Regions from separate parts of the Homo sapiens genome. Here region 2 is linked to region 1. The links come from fine-mapping of genetic effects on gene expression. Tissue or cell type: testis. Region 1 holds a variant in brackets; the other region holds the start of a gene. All regions are shown on one strand. Distances are between the middles of the regions.

Evidence for each region. PIP is the estimated chance that this variant, and not a neighbour inherited with it, causes the effect.
Region 2: SYNJ2 starts here. The variant in region 1 is fine-mapped to the expression of SYNJ2 in testis (GTEx, PIP above 0.99).

What each region holds. Positions count from the first base shown.
Region 1 is chr6:158,056,535-158,064,637 of GRCh38, forward strand. It overlaps SYNJ2 (synaptojanin 2), which reads left to right. Exons shown (of 27, transcript NM_003898.4): 7 at 2,723-2,819; 8 at 5,458-5,630; 9 at 7,257-7,338; 10 at 8,067-8,103. Among named protein-coding and RNA genes, the nearest start is that of SYNJ2-IT1, 59 kb to the left of the region's middle. The variant C/T (reference allele first, on the strand shown) is at 5,044.
Region 2 is chr6:157,977,427-157,985,529 of GRCh38, forward strand. It overlaps SYNJ2 (synaptojanin 2), which reads left to right and starts at 4,437. Exons shown (of 27, transcript NM_003898.4): 1 at 4,437-4,662. The coding sequence starts at 4,536. RefSeq lists enhancers at 3,673-3,722, 3,687-4,202, 3,743-3,932, 3,953-4,002, 4,203-4,718 and a silencer at 4,123-4,702.

The DNA of each region.
Region 1 (8,103 bases):
ATTGCTGACTATGTTCCCCTCATTCGAGATAACGTTTGGAAATAAGGTGACATGTCTGCCTAGTGGCCGCAGTGGGGCACCATGAGGGTCCCCCTGAAAGCAGGCTGCCCAGGTCCTCGATGGTGTCCCTGGACTGGCATGTGCATTGTCCTGGGTGCTTCCCAATTCTCTTCTCTGGGACATCACTGCGCTCTCAAGAGTCGTGCGGTTCTCTGATGGATTTGGTTGAGAGTAAATCCTTTCTTTCCCCCGCAAAACCTTCACACAGATAGTTTTTCTTCCCAGAGGATGCTTGTTTTCCTTTGCCTGAGCTGCATGGGTGCCCCTGTTAGCCGAGGCGGTCTCTTGTCACTTTGCTGTATGTGCTCCATATCTGAGGAGGGCTGTTTGCAGCAGGACTTTGGCTGCAGCTGCTTGAGTGGGGTCTTGTCATCTCTGTGTGGTGATGAGTCTCGGTGGAAGGGCTAACCTTTCACAGGGCGGTGCCTCAGTCTCTCCTCACAGGACAGTGAACCCCTTCTCCTTCCCCGCCCCGCTCTGCGGGCGGCTGCTGTGCACATCAGGGTGTGCTGAACTCTTGGTCCCTCCCTGAAGATGAGAAGGATGCTTCCAAATAGAAATCTGATTCCTCAGTATCCCGAAAAACTCCTGTTTTCCAAGTAGCTTCCTATGACAGTAACCCGTAGGCAGGGGAAGTGAAAAAAAGGCCTCAATGCTCAGGGTGACCCAGGAAGAAGCCCGTATGATGCCGACCTTGCTGCTGGTGCCAGCGTCCCCTTACACCCTGGGTGCCAGCGCTCCCTTACGCCCTGGGTGCCAGCGTCCCCTTACCTGGGTCGGCAGGGCCTCTCAGCTCACCAATAACGAGCATTTTACAATAAAGGGAAAGAAAGAGGAACCACGTCCCACACACCAAGCACTGTCCTTGTCACTTTCACTCGTCTTTTTAGTCCTCCTCGCCATTCTCCGCAGGAGGGGAAGTAGCCCTGCTTTATAGATGAAGGAGCCAGCTCAGAAGGGATGAATCATTTGATCAGGGGAGTTTGGGGTTGGGACAGCATAGAGTAATGATGAGGAATAGTGAGTAATAATGAGTAATAACAGTTTCCTTCTGGCCCTGGGCTTTGGAACCAGTTGAGAAGAAGGGGCAGGAATGAGACAGGAAGAGATCAGAAATGGGCCTTGTTTCCGATGAGCCACATTGTGGGATGTGGCTTGGATGTGTGGCCACGGTGGGCTCCCTCACCAGGGGCAGAGCCTGCACGTGTCAGAGCCAGGCCTGGGATGCACCTTCTCTGGGCAGACCGACCCAAAAGAAAGCCCACAAGGGCTGAAGCCACACACAGCCCGCCCCAGGGCTGCCTGGAGCTGCACGTGGAGACGGGAGCCCGGGAGGGTGCTCACCCTTAACTTAGGCCAGGGAGTCAGCAGGCAAGCCTAACTTCAAACTACCCACTTCAAAATCCATAGTCTTTCTACTACTGTCCCTTAAAGTTAGTAAGAGAATGTTTTCTCTTACTGCATAAGAAAAAAAATGATTTTTTTCATGATCATTATTAGCTCTTTAAAAAATTCCGCTCATAAACGTGTCATTACAGAAATTTGGAAAAGAGAAAGATGTTTAAAGAAGAAAAGAACTTGAATCATATAAAATTCTACCACTTTTGACATCATGTGTTTTTTTCCAGTGTTTTTTCTATATTTAGGCATAAAGATTGCACCATTAAACGATAATTTGACATCTGCTTTTTGCATTGTATCATTTCCCTATGTTTTGTTTAAGGCACTACATTTCAACATGTTTAAATTTGAAATGTAAGGTTACTTTTAAAAAGCTGGTGATCAAGAATAAATATTGGAATCTCTCCCTAATATTTCAACATACATATTTAGAAAGTAGCTTCCAATACAAGGAATGTTTTCCAAAGCCTGCAAGTTTTGTTGTATCTCCTTGTTGTGGTTTAGCATAATGCAATATAGCACTTAGATTGAAAACAGGATGCTGAGTTGAGAGCTCTCCTGCCAGTTGTTCTAGTTTTGAGAAGGGTGGGTACCAAGCAAAATAAGAGATTCATTTCACACATGTGCACATTGCATGTGTAAGACTCTAGCCCAGGCACGGTGGCTTATGCCTGTAATCCCAACACTTTGGGACGCTGAGGTGGGAAGATTGCTTGAAGCCAGGAGTTCGAGACCAGCCTGGACAACATAGCAAGACCCTGTCTCTATGAAAAATAAATAAGTAAAAATTAGCCAGATGTGGTGGCATGTACCTGTAGTCCCTATTACTTGAGAGGCTGAGTTGGGAGGATTGCTTGAGCCCAGGAGTTTGAGGCAGCAGTGAGCTATGATCGTGCCACTGCACTCTAGCCTGGACAACAGACTGAGATCCTGTCTCAAAAACAAAATTCTCTTGATGAAAGTTCAGGTTAGGTGTTCTAGATATAATGGGAGGTGCTTTATAGAAAGTGCAGCATATCCTTTGTCTGATTCCAAACAAATGTAGAAGTCTACGCTAGCTAGTAGTAATGGCAGCTGGGAGGTGCAGGTTCTCTCCACCCAGGCTCATTTTCCACGATTTGGGTCATGGGGGACAGCTGGTCCTGGACTGTGGCACTAAGAAAGCATGACTCCTGCCCCGTCTTCCCTTGAGGGGCAGAACAGGGCAGAGTCTGCACCTGTGCCCGTGCCCAGCATCACGCCCACCCCGCTGCCTTTGCAGGCACATGGTGCTTCTGAAGGAGCAGTACGGGCAGCAGGTGGTCGTGAACCTTCTGGGAAGCAGAGGCGGAGAGGAGGTGCTCAACAGAGCCTTCAAGGTAAGGCCAGGCTGTCCTCTCCACAGCTGGGCTGGGCGGCAGGTGGCCATGGTGGAGCGTTGAGCCTGGAGGTGGCTCCTGCAGGGACTGGAGCTGACAGCCCAGCCCTCCTTCGTTTCCTGAGGCTTCCCCAGCATTCCGACCAGTGAACACGGCAGTGCTCAGTGACTCGGGCCCTGATACAGTGAGTGTAATTTCTTTTCTTTTTTTTTTTTTTTAAGACAGAGTTTGGCTCTTGTCGCTCAGGCTGGAGTGCAGTGGTGCAATCTCAGCTCACTGCAACCTCTGCCTCCCAGGTACAAGCGATTCTCCTCCCTCAGCCTCCCAAGTAGCTGGGATTACAGGCACTTGCCACCACGCCTGGCTAATTTTTGTATTTTTAGTAGAGACGGGGTTTCACCATGTTGTTCAGGTTGGTCAAGAACTCCTGACCTCAGGTGATCCACCCGCCTCGGCCTCCCAAAGTGCTGGGATTGCAGGCGTGAGCCACCGCGCCCGGCCTAGTGAGTGTAATTTCTGTGAGCTGATGGTTGGGAGAATTTGCTCAAAGTCAAAACAGAGCATCTCCTGTCCCCAGCCATGTGTCCCTTACCCTCCCTCCCCATGGGGCTTTGAGGGCTTCTGACCTCTCAAGGTACCCCTCTCAGTCCAGCCCAGGAGCAGGCAGGCCTCCCTTTCTGCCCTGGCTGGTCCTGGGTGAGTTCCCCCAGCCCCACAGGGCACCCGGCCTCAGGGCTCAGGAGCAGGAACTTCGGTGGCTTTCCCCTGCTTGCCGGCTGGCCTTCAAATTTCCCCCTCTTCCTCGGGCTTTCATGGCAGCTCCTGGACCTGCTGCTGCTGGGCTCCTGTGGGCTCCTTCAGACTTCCTTGGGGGGCTTTTCCTGGCGATCCTGGACAGATCCTGGGCAGGGTCACAGAGCCATGGGAGCAAGAGACTCCGCCCACCTGGCCAGGTTCCATCCCTGTGCATGGATCCCAGGCCTCCAGCCCCCGCCCCCTGCTCCCCAGGCGCAAGACGTTCCAGAATGAGCCAAGGGGGCTCCTGGTTCCTTTACCAGCCTCCATGTCCCCTGCCTAATAGAGAAAAACTCTCTCGTTGTTTAAAGCTCAAAGATATCCCTTACAGAGAGAGCTCGAAGTCGCCTCACTGGGGGTTAGGGCGATCTCTGAGCCTTTCCCTCTGCTTAGAAATGCCACATGCTCATGCTCAGAGCAGGCACTTCCTGGTTGCCAATTTTATTTGGCCAGACCTGCTTTTCCTGTTTGGTTTGTTGCTATTAGCAACGAGCTCCAGAAGTGTCTCCCTTCCCACCCATCTTGGCAGTGATGCTGGCTGCTAATTTGAAGGAAGAAGGGAAAAAGCTAAAAAATAAGAATAATAATAAGAACCCCAAGTCCTTTTCCCCTATGCCTTGAGTTGTGGCCCCTCCCATCAGTGGGTGAAGTGCCCGGCACTGGTGAGGGCGGGAGATGGCAGCCACCTCATGCGGAGAAGGGTGGGCTCCTGGCCAGGTAGGGAGGGGCACTCTAGCTGAAGACCTGGGTCATGGCCCTGCCTGGGGTGGCCCTCAGCCACCTCAGCTTGGCCCAGACCAAGGTTGGTGGCCCAGCAGCCTGCCCAGGGCCCAATGGCCATCAGTCCTGCTGGATGAAGCACTGGCTGTGGAATGCATGGCACTGAGCCACCAGGCACTGTTGGGCTCCTCCAGCTTCTTGCTCACAGCAAGACTTGCTTGATGATGGCAGCACTGCATTGATTTACACTCAGACCTATCACAGGCAGTCACGTTGAGTCAGATCAGATGACCCCCAAGTCCTTCTAGTCCTTCCAAGTCACTAGGACCTCTGGCTGGGCAGAGGCTGGACTGGCCTGACCTGAAGCCACAAGGGCATGAGTGCAGGGTGAGAGGCCTGGAAGCCGGGTGGCCTGGGTAGGCGGACAGTTTGTCCTTCATCACGGGGCTCTCTGGGGAGAAAGCCAGGGAGCTGCCAGGCCAGGGAAGCCTCATATGGAAGGGAGGGCTCTTAAGGGCATCCTGGTGCCATCAGCAGCCCCTTGACCTGCTTCCCATCTCTCCCCACCTTCACTCTGGCTCCCTGACCATCCTGAAGTAGCATCGGGATGTGGGACCCACCTGGGCCACTTCAGCTGGAGACTTGGTCTCTTCAGAGCATAACCACCAGAGGCTGGTGCGCGGCAGGATGGGGCCGGTTACTAGGGCAA[C/T]GGGGAGCTGGATTATGAGCTCTGCAGCCTGCCACAGCACTGCTATCTCTGAGGGCCTGGGGCACCTGGGCCACCTGAAGAACAGAGCAGTCCTTCCTCACCTGTGCCCTCCAGAGAGCCCTGCAGGAGTATGATCTCTCCAGGAAGCCACACCTGCTCTGGCTTCTTTTGCTCAAGGGGGACCTTCTGCCCTTTCGCAGGCAAGACGCTCTTTGTGGGTTTTGTCCCCCCAGGGCCTTTGTCCTGTGCTTCCCTTTTGGGGTCAACTGCCTGGTCCACTGTGAGCTTCCAGCTAAAGCACGTCCTGCGGCGAGTCACCTTGGTTAGCCGCACGGGTCAAGCTCTGCAAGGAGCTTGCCCTCCTCGTCCTCCCTTCCCTCTGCTCCCCTCACCGCCCTCCCCTCCTCTTTTCAGAAGCTGCTCTGGGCTTCTTGCCACGCGGGCGACACGCCTATGATCAATTTTGACTTCCATCAGTTTGCCAAAGGTGGGAAGCTAGAGAAATTGGAGACCCTCTTGAGGCCACAGTTAAAGCTGCACTGGGAAGACTTCGATGTGTTCACAAAGGGGGAGAACGTCAGTCCACGGTGAGGCTCGCTGCGCACTGTGCCGCGTCTTCTGCTGGGGGGAAGCGTCAGTCCACGGTGAGGCTCGCTGCGTGCTGTGCCTTCTGCTGGGTGAGGCGGCAGAGGGGCCGTGCAGTCTAGGACATGTGCCCTATGAGGGGCAGCTTCCTTCCCTCCCCACTCAGTTACCCTTGTGGTTTCCTGGGTCATAAGCTTGGCGACGCCGGGAATCTTGGGTTCCAGCTTCTCATCTCCCTTCCCACAGTAGGAGACAGGCTTTTGAATTTCTCAAGGAGATGTTGAGTCATGGTTTTCTGGCAAAAGAAATGAACTAATAAAGGGGACTGCATTAAAACATGGAGCTCCACGCTGTGACGCAGGCCTGTGAGAGTGAGGGCCACAGTCGCGGTGGGATGGCTGGCATAGACTTAGATTGCTAGAGGAGACCAGGGTATGGACTTCCCTGTTCAGAGCAGAGGAGAAAAACGAAGTCCAGTTCCCTCAGGTCACATGCAGGGGGTCCTCATTATTTGCAGATTCCATATTGGCTTATTTACCTATTCCTTAAAACTGATTTGTAACCCCAAAATCAGTATGCAAAGCATTTTTGCTGGACAGAGTATTTAAATACTCTGGCCTCGTATTTAAACAAGTTTCCTTTTTAAGATTTAGTACCATGTTTTTCACATTTGTGGGGTCTTTGTTAGGGGCCCCCCTTTGTTCGGGGATCTCATGGTTTAGAATGGCCCCAAGCAGTGTGCCGAAGAGCTGTCTAGTACTTCTGAGCACAAGAAGGTGGTGATGTGCTTTATGGAGAAAATGCACGTTAAGATAAGCTTTGTCCCTATATGAGCTACAGTGCTGTCGGCCATGGTTCAGTGTTAATTAAGCAAATATATATATTCAATAAGGTGTCTTTATATGGAAACATACATAAAACAAGGTTGTATATTGATCAGTTGATAAAAATGTGACCAGAGGTTTGCAGGAACCTAACCCTATATTTCCCCTAGGAGCGATGGTTCTGTGTTCATGTCCAATTCAGTGTTCCTACAACTTTATAGAACATAATTGCTATAAATAACAAGGACCAGCTAAACGTAAAACGACCCAGCTGTGCAGGCTACTGAGTGTGTGTCCTGGGGTCTGCCTGCCTTTCCAGAAGTGCTGGGGATCCACTGGGATGGACACTGGGGTTTCTGGGGGGCTATTGATGAGGAGGTGAGGGGTTCCCTCTTAGAACATGTTTCCTCACACCTGTAATCCCAGCACTTTGGAAGGCTGAGGTGGGCGGATCACAAGGTCAGGAGTTCGAGACTAGCCTGGCCAATGTGGTGAAACACCGTCTGTACTAAAAATACAAAAATTAGCCGGGTGTGATGGCACGCACCTGTAGTCCCAGCTACTTGGAAGGCTGAGACAGGAGAATCGCTTGAACCTGGGAGGCGGAGGTTGCAGTGAGCCGAGATCATGCCATTGCACTCCAGCTTGGGTGACAGAGGTGAGACTCTGTCTCAAAAAAAAAAAAAAAAAAAAAAAAAAAACCATGTTTCCTTGGGAGTCAAAAGTCAGACATGGGCCTCTGTGCTATGGCCACTGCTTCTTTGAAAACAACATATAACCGTTTACATTTCTTCTTGTCCTAAGTTTTCAGAAAGGCACTTTGCGGATGAACTGTCTTGACTGCCTGGACCGAACCAACACTGTGCAGAGCTTCATCGCGCTCGAGGTGCGTCCCTGCCACAGCCTTTTCGGCCATCTGTGCCAGGTCCTGTGACTTCAGCTGGACAGGCTGGGCTGAGCACCTTTAGCGGCAAGATGAGGGTGGCATCACCAAGACAACCTTCTGACTATGGGGAAGGTGGACAGGGAGACACTGGGACATCCAGAGAGGGGTTCCCCAGGAGGCTGCTTTCTCTGTCGTAGGCACACTTTCTCACACCCTCTTGTGAAATGCATCCCAGACATGGTGGCCCAAAGGCTCCTCGGGAACAGCGGTTGTGTGTAATGATTATCGTGGATGCACCATTGGCCAAAGGCAGTGTGAGGCTGGCCGGATGAGGCTGGATTTGAAGCTGGGGAGGGAGACCTCTGTCTGCATGGCCCCAGCTGCCTGGTTGACCTCTCCTGGCTGGGGGGTCGGGGGTAGGGTCAGCACCCCCTGCTGTCCACCACTGTTTGCTCTTCAGCCTCTGGCATTGGGTGGGGCGGGGCGGGGTGCAGGGGCGTTCAAGTGTCAGGGGGTGAGAGGAGGGCTTGGGTGGACCCTATAGATAAAGTTGGGGTGAGATGTGGGAAGTCACTCTCTGCTGTGGGAACTCCTCATCCTCTGGAGGGGCACAGAGTCTTCCAGGCACAGCGTAATCCACAGGCTGCCGAATAAGGAACCTCCTGGGACAGTGGCTGCAGGGCCTCTGTGGGAGAAGCCAGTGACAGCCATCCCTTATTCCTCCCCAGGTCCTGCATCTGCAGCTCAAGACCCTGGGGCTGAGTT
Region 2 (8,103 bases), 79 kb before region 1:
TTGCCCACAGCCCTGTCCCACTGCCTGCTCCCTTCTGCCTCCATACCTGTCCTCCCAACCTCCTCTCCCTCCCTCTGAAGATCCTGCCACCTCCTTTTCAGGGGACTTCCTTTCTCCCCTCTAGAGACAGGTGCCTCTCTGTGCTGGGGAGTGAGCTCTCCTGCTCTGCTCTTTGCTATTTGCCTTCCACCATGTGCAGGTCTGGCCAGTCCTCGAGGGTCTCTGCTATCCCGTCTGCCCCCCATTCTGTTCATCTTGTGTTTCTCCCAGCCTGGCTTCCAGAGCCAGCAGACTACACTCACAGCGCCATTTCTTCCTTATTTCTTTGCAAGCTGGCTTTTTTGCCCAGCCCTCTAGTGAAGCTGCCCCCTCAAAGGTCCCCGTTACCTTCTCACCAAACCAAGTTTCTTTTCTGAGTCCTGATTCTTGGATACCTTCCTGAGGTTTTTAAACCAGTCACCTCTCAGGGCTTTTGCATGTGGGAGGCTGTAGCCCCAGATGCCTGATGGCTGTTTCTCTTACCTCCTTCCGGTCTGTTAAAAAATGCCTCCTTTTCTGAGAGGGAGGAGCCCTCAGGAATGGTTTAGCGCCATCCTCTAGACGATGAGTTTTCACTCAGTTCATGTGAGATCCAGAGCTGTCCAGGTCACGCCCTTGGCCCCTCTGCTTTCTCGGGGTACTTCTTGATCGTCTTTTCCTCCTGCCCCTGCCTTCTACCCCTGTCTGTCTCCACTCCCCTTTGATCGCTGCCATACTCATTTCTGGCCCCTCATCTGTAGGCATTTCCCACTGGACGACCTGCCCACCCGGTCTCTGTCTCCAATTAAACTCGCCTCCTCCTCACTCTGGGATGGTATCGCTGCTGTCCCATTCTCAAAATGCCAGGGTCCTGTCTGACTTCCCACTTTCCTTTGTGCAGCTCATATCATACAATCAGGCACCAAATACAGATTTGTATTTCCTTTAAACCTCTCCTGTCTTACTCGGCTCGGGCTCTGATAGGGGTTAGATGTCTGTCCACTCCAAATCTCCTGTTGAAATGTAATCCCCAGTGCTGGAGGTGGGGCCTGGTGGGAGGATTGCATCATGAGGGTGGACCTCTCATGAATGGTTTAGTACCATCTTCTTGATGATAAGTGAGTTCTTGCTCAGTTAGTTCACGGGAGATCTGAGTGTTTGAAAGAGTGCGGCACCTCCCCCCAGCTCTCCTGCTCTAATCTCACCACGTGACATGCTGGTTCCTGGTTGCCTTCCACCATGACTGTAAGCCTCCTGAGGCCTCCCCAGAAGCAGACGCCAGCACCATGCTTCCTGTACAGCCTGTGGAAGCGTGAGCCAATGACATCTATTTTCTTTATAAATACCCAGTCTCAGGTATTCCTTTATAGTAACACAAATAGACTAATAATACAGGCTTCCGCAATAAAATACCACAGGCCAGTGGCTTAAACAATAGAAATTTATTTCTCAGTTCTAGAAGCTAGAAATTCTGAGATCAAGGTGCCAGCTGATGTGGCTCTTGCTGAGGGCCGTCTTCCTGGCCGGCAGATGCTCAGGCCCTTCCCTCTGTGTCTCTTCTTTTTTTTTTTTTTTGTTTTTCCTTCTTTGAGACAGAGTCGTGCTCTATTGCCCAGGCTGGAGTACAGTGGCTCCATCTCTGCTCACTGCAACCTCTGCCTCCCGGGTTCAAGTGATTCTCCTGCCTCAGTCTCCCGAGTAGCTGGGATTACAGGCACACACCACCACATCCAGTGAATTTTTTTGTATTTTTAGTAGAGATGGGGTTTTGCCATGTTGGCCAGGGTGGTCTCAAACTCCTGATCTCAAGTGATTCACCCACCTTGGCTTCCCAAAGTGCTGGGATTACAGGCATGAGCCACCGCGCCTGGCCTGTCTCTTCTTCTAAGGACACTAATCCTATCATTCTTATTGAGAGGGCCCCACTGGCATGACGTCATCTGACCCTAACGAGCTCCTAAAGGTTCCATCTCTAAAAACCATTCCACTGGGGGTCAGGGCTTCAACATATGGATTTGGTAGGGCAACAGGGGGTGGGGATAGGGTGGCTCAAACGTTCAGTGCATGTCTCCCCTACTTCCCCTCTTTGTTTCCTCTGATAACCTGTTGGGGTTCCTGACTCCCTCACCCACACCACGCTGAGCTACATTTCCTGCTGTGGCTTACTCTGGGGCTGGTGGAGTTGGCTTTTGCTTCCTTCCCCATCTCCTCCCCTTCCCAATTCCCTACCCTCCAGGCATTATACATCTCAGAGAGGGGAAGCGCCCAACTCTCCTGCCGCAGATGGGCCCACCCCTTTGCCCAAACGCCGCTGGGGGTTTAGGTGTCTGAGCCAACCTTTTCCTTGAAGGCCTCAAGGTCAGTTGCTCCATCTGCGAAAGGTGCCTGTGCCTGGGTACCCTTGGTCTATCAAGCCAGTGCGCATGTGAGGAAGCTGCTCCCTCTGCCACCCAGGTGGGCTGTCCCACCTGAAACCAGACAGCAGAGGCCCCAAAACCCAGCAGGCTCTTGGCTCACCCAGCCATTTCTCAGAGACGGAGGAACAGCCACTGTAGTTCCTTGAGTCTGAGACGTGCATTTTAACATTGTCTAAATCAGGGCAGAGATGACTATTGGTGGCATGTTCTAGTTTAATTGGAAGTTTTTTTTTTTTTCTCAGTGGTACATAAAATAGTGGTTCATTTTACAGTTGATGGTGACTTGGATTCTATAAGCTGTGAGGCTCAACTGCTGGTCCTGACTGCAGGAAAATTTCTAAAATAGGTATGGCATGCCACTGTGCAGGACTTTAGACTATATGATGCTAGTTAGGAAAGAGGAGAGAGAGATAAATGGAAGACTGGGTCCCCTCCCTAAGGCCTTACCACTCAATTTGCAAAACAGGGCTAAGAGAAAACATAAAAACACTTCTCAAGCAACATATGAGTAGGTGAGAACTGAAGTCTGTAAATCTGGGTGTTATATAAGCACTATTATCTGGGACCTCAGCATTCCAGGAAAGCTTCCTGGAAGAAGTGAGTTTCAGGTCAAAAAGTGGGCCAAAGGCTGATCTGCCTCACTGAATGGGCACACTGTTTTCATGAGGTAGTAATGTTTCCATCTACACAGAAAGAAGCTGCTCGGACAGCTGATGAGCATCATGCCTGGGATATTGAGCACATCATGCTTGACCTGGGCAGAGTTTGTGGGCAAGGAAAGGGGCTAAGGGTCAAGATAATCTCTGCTGGGGTTGTTCAAATTTATTACCCAACCATCACCTGAGAGGTTGTCCCCTGAGGATGGCTTGTCTGGTCATTACTGAATGTCTGCAGGGGCATGGCAGTGTTCTGCTTGGCTCTGGGGGCTCTGCCCTTTCTAGGACAAGTCCCAGAGACAAACAGCTTGGCCCAGTACAGCAGAATGGGGTGAGAGAGGAACTGAGTTCGTTTGCGGGCAGGATGGAAACAGCTGATGGAGGCTTCTCGGGCCATCCTCACGTACCCATCACAAGCGAAGGGAATTAAGCCGCCAAACCACCCCAAAGAGTGACTCCAACTCAGCCCTAAACACCCATACCCACCCCACCTCCCCTGCAGCTCTGACAGGCCAAGCCTGGGCGCTAGAACCCCGCGCCAGAAGGCCGGGCCACACACTCCAGCGTACACGCGCGGACACGTGCCGGTGTCCAGAGCCGGTGGGAGAGGCGCTGTCACCATCTGACAGGAGAGGAAGGTGGAGCGCAGAGAAGTCAGGGTCACGTGGTAAGTGGGGGTCGTGGTCTGGGGATCACGGCTCCAGGTCTCTTCGCGACAACGCACCGTTGACCCCCAACACCTCTCCCTGGCGGGGTCGGTGACCGCAACAGCCTCCGGGATAGAACGCTAGTGAAAGGTAACCTTTCTCCAGCCCGCTCCACGCGCTCCGCACCCGCTAAGCGCCTCCGCGAATTAACTCAGGCCTCCGCGCCGAAGTAGGCGCAGTTATGACCCCGCTTCCCCGCAGGGAGACCGAGGCACGCAGGGTCGAAAGGACTCGTCCAGGGTCGCAGGAGCCGACCACACAGGGAGGCGCAGCGCCCCCGGCGGGAACAGTCAGCGGGTCCAGCCTGGCGGACTCCCGGGCCGGGCTGCCCATATAAGGCTGCGGGCGGCCGGCATCGCAGCCAGGCTCCCGGGGTCGCCCCGCGCGGGGCATCCTCCTCCGCAGCGAGGAATGCGTGGCATCCGGGAGGCTCTTCCGCTCCACGCCCGCCTGCGGGGAGCCTCAGCCCCGGGGCGCGGCCTCGCGCAGCTGCCTGGCCGCTGGGGGGAGCGCGGGGCCGGGCGGGAGGCGGCGGCGCGCCCTCACCTGCCCCAGGCTGGGGAGGCGCGAGTGGGGAGGAGGAGGAAGGGGAGGAGGCCGGGGAGGAGCCTGGCGCGGCGGGAGCGGCGGCGCAAAGTGAAACTCTGGCAAGTTGCGGGCGCGCGGGGAGCTGTCGCGGGCAGCGCGCCCTCGGGAGGACGTGGCCCCGGCCCCCGCCCGCAGTGGGCCCGACCCTCATGGCCCTGAGCAAAGGGCTGCGGCTGCTGGGGCGCCTGGGGGCCGAGGGGGACTGTAGCGTGCTGCTGGAGGCGCGCGGCCGCGACGACTGCCTGCTGTTCGAGGCCGGCACGGTGGCCACGCTGGGTGAGTCCGGGCCGGGGGCAGCGACGCCCGGAGGAGAGGGCGCCCGCATTCGCCCAGCCTCGGGAAGACGGGTACCCCCCCTTCCCGAGGGGATCGGGCGGCGCTGGGACTGCCGGGGCGTAGGGGTCGCGCGCAGAGGGGTGGCTGTTTGAATGAAGTGGGGCTGGGGACTCGAGAGAGCACTCTGGCTGGGCCGGTGGCGCACGGAGGCCGGCCGCCCCTCCACGGGGATCTCCGGCCCGCGCCGCCAGAGGATATGGTTGCTGGATAGCCGGCTGGGGCGCTTTGCGTATTCATGAGGATCCCGGGGTGTTGACTTAGCCGGCCTGACCCTGTGCCTGGCGCCTTTTCTTTTGCACCTGTTGATGAAACCAGTGATTGCCCTTTGGTTTGTGTTGGCGGCTCCACTCCTGGAGGGGATGGGGACAAAAGCCCCAAAACATAGGCTCTGGAGAAACCGCTGATGGCAGCTTTGTCCCACGTAAATACTTGGTCGAGAAGCATCGGTGCTGCAATTTATAGAACTTGTAAACAAATATACCATGACCTTTATGCTGTCTTAGATCCTGCCAAGCCAGCGAATTTCACCTATGGACTTCAGAAGCCTTGAAACTGGCATTGTGCTATGGGCTTTAGTACGTGATCTCACTTAATTCTCACAATTCTACTAAAAAGCTATTATTATCCCCATTTTGCAGATGAGCAAACTGAGGCCTAAAGAGGCTAAGTTGCTTGCCAAGGTGACACCATCCACCTGACTTTTATGTGGCTGTTTCTGTAATGTCATTCAATGCGTGGCTTCCTGGTATCGCTAACCTGGGTCCCTTGTTTTGTGCTAACCATTATAAGGAAAACCTGGGTAGCACCAAAGCACGTGAAACCAGGTCTGATTGTTAGACTTCTAAATGTGGACACCCGAGAGTAAGCTCCCACCACTAGGCGTCCAGCTGTAACAGCTTGCCGGTATTCCTAGCTAAACAAGGTGCAGCCCGGGGTCACTCGTACTTGAGGTGGTCGGCAAATGCAGCAGGCTGCTTTGTAGATGCCTCTAGCCTTCTTTTCACATTTGTATGCATCGACTCCCGTTCGGATGTATGTCTTGGAAGGACTATCTCTCCTATTTCTGATTCCCTAATCATTTCATTAACATGCATTTATCCAGCTTGTTCTCAGTCACTTGATTACTGAAACAATGTCTCCAGTAGTCTCAGCATCAAAAGTAGGCAGTGAATTGTAGATTAAGTTATTTTCAGATTATTCTAATTTGTGCTGTCCTGAAGAGTCTAAGTTTGGTTATTTGGTGTGGCCTTGAAAGAAAACCACAGAAATTTCCATTCCATTTTAGATGTCTACTTCATACCACATTTATCGGAAGCGAAAGAGTAATTTCATGGTACAAAACTACTGTTTCATCAAATAGATTAAGATGTCCTTCAGTTGGATTACGGCAACATTAAGCCAAGTTCATACACATTCAAGAATTCTTTGAAGCAGCTTAGAAAAAAGAGATTTTATTTTTTCAAAAGTGAAGATTTAAAAATGATTAATGACAGTAATGTAGTGCATATTTTCCATTAGGAGCTGAAGTTTGGGCTGAGATTTACATCACGGTGGTGATTACAGTATACCAGATTTTAGAACAGAGAATGTAAGAAAGGAATTGGCTCGTCTTCAACTCATGTGCAGTCCACATTTGTCATTTAACCTAGCATTCATTTTTCAGTAGAAAACTTTAAAAAAAAATTTTTTTTTTTTTTGAAACAGAGGCTTCTTCTGTTGCCTAGGCTGGCATGCAGTGGCACAGTCACAGCCCACTGCAGCCTCAACTTCCCAGGCTCAAGCGATCCTCCTGCCTCAGCCTCCTGAGTAGCTGGGACTATAGGCACATGCCACCATGCCTGGCTAATTTTTTCTCTTTCTTTTCTTTTCTTTAAATGGGGTCTTACTATGTTGCCCATGCTGTTCTCGAACTCCTGGGCTCAGGTGATCTTTCCGCCTTGGTCTCCCAAAGCGTTGGGATTACAGGCATGAACTACTTACTGCGTCTGGCCTGAAAACTTAATTTTTTAAAGTCTGTTTTGTTTAAGTAAAATGAAACTATTTTTAAAAAGCAGCTGTAGCATTTGGTGGCTTTGCTGGTCCAGAGAATGTTTGTAGGAGAGAGCCTTATGTTACTAGAAAGTTGTTTAAAACTTTCAACATATCCTAAATGCATCACTATTGGATAAAATGGCTCTGAACTTGAAATTCCCATCTGTGTTCCAAAGGGCTAGCTAGCTGTTTTACTTTCCTTTCTTGGAGAAAGTGATTATTTTTTTTCTTTTTTTTGAGATGGAGCTTCACTCTTGTTGCCTGGGCTGAGTGAAGTGGTGCGATCTCGGCTGACTGCAACACCGCCACCCCCACCTGGGTTCAAGTGATTCTCCTGCCTCAGCCTCCCCAGTAGCTAGGATTACAGGCACACGCCACCATGCCTGGCTAATTTTTGTATTTTTAGTAGAGACGGGGTTGTGCCATTTTGGCCAGGCTGGTTTCTAACTCCTGACCTTAGGTGATCCACCTGCTTTGGCCTCCCAAAGTGCTAGGATTACAGGCGTGAGCCACCATGCCTGACCCGAGAAGGTGAATTTTTACAAGAAGGCTGCAATCTCTACTTTTGTATGGGACAGGACACTTGTGGCAGCTGGCGTAGCTGGTGGTCTAATCTTGACCTTTCACCCTTTCCTTGAAGTTCCGAGTCGGGGGTAGCTTCCTTTTCTCTTCAGCTGTGGTTTTCCTGTGATGGGTCCCTCCCAGTTAGTAATGAGAGGCTGAGAGACAAGTTGTGGTAACTGCTTCGTGGGTAGTGGTCTTTCCCGGCCCCTGAGTCATTCTAACTTCCATCCTGCTCCGCTGCGGATGCACATAGCTGCTTTCCTAGGGGCGAGAGGAGATGAGGGGACTGGGCCTGATGACCACAGGCGCTGCCCCTTCATAGCACATTTTATTCCTGAAGGATCCTAACTGGAAAAGTACCTCTCGCCGAAGGGGCTGGGTGGTTCCTTATCATTTTCAGGCAAGGCCTGGAGACAGGGGCTTGAACTGGGCTGTGATTTTTAGGAAAAACGGATGGTCCATGATTCGTTGATTGCTGGACTCCTTCCATCTGAACCTGTCTTCACCTGTCTTCACCTGTCCTGCTCTAAAGTGAACTCTTCACACTAGGGCCGTCTGGCCTGCTAGCAGGATTGTTGAAGGAATTATTCCAAATTCCTGCTTCTAAAAGAATTAGGTTGTGAATCTGAATCTGTCTTTTATGTAGATCAGTGGGAGCAAAAATTCCAGAGGCAGAAAAGCCAAATGTATTGGCACTGATTTAAAAGGCTTTTATGAAGTCTCGGGAACCTGACTGGAGGGTAGTTGGCCTTCTCAGCACAGGTGGGAAGCCCCGTAGCCGGTACC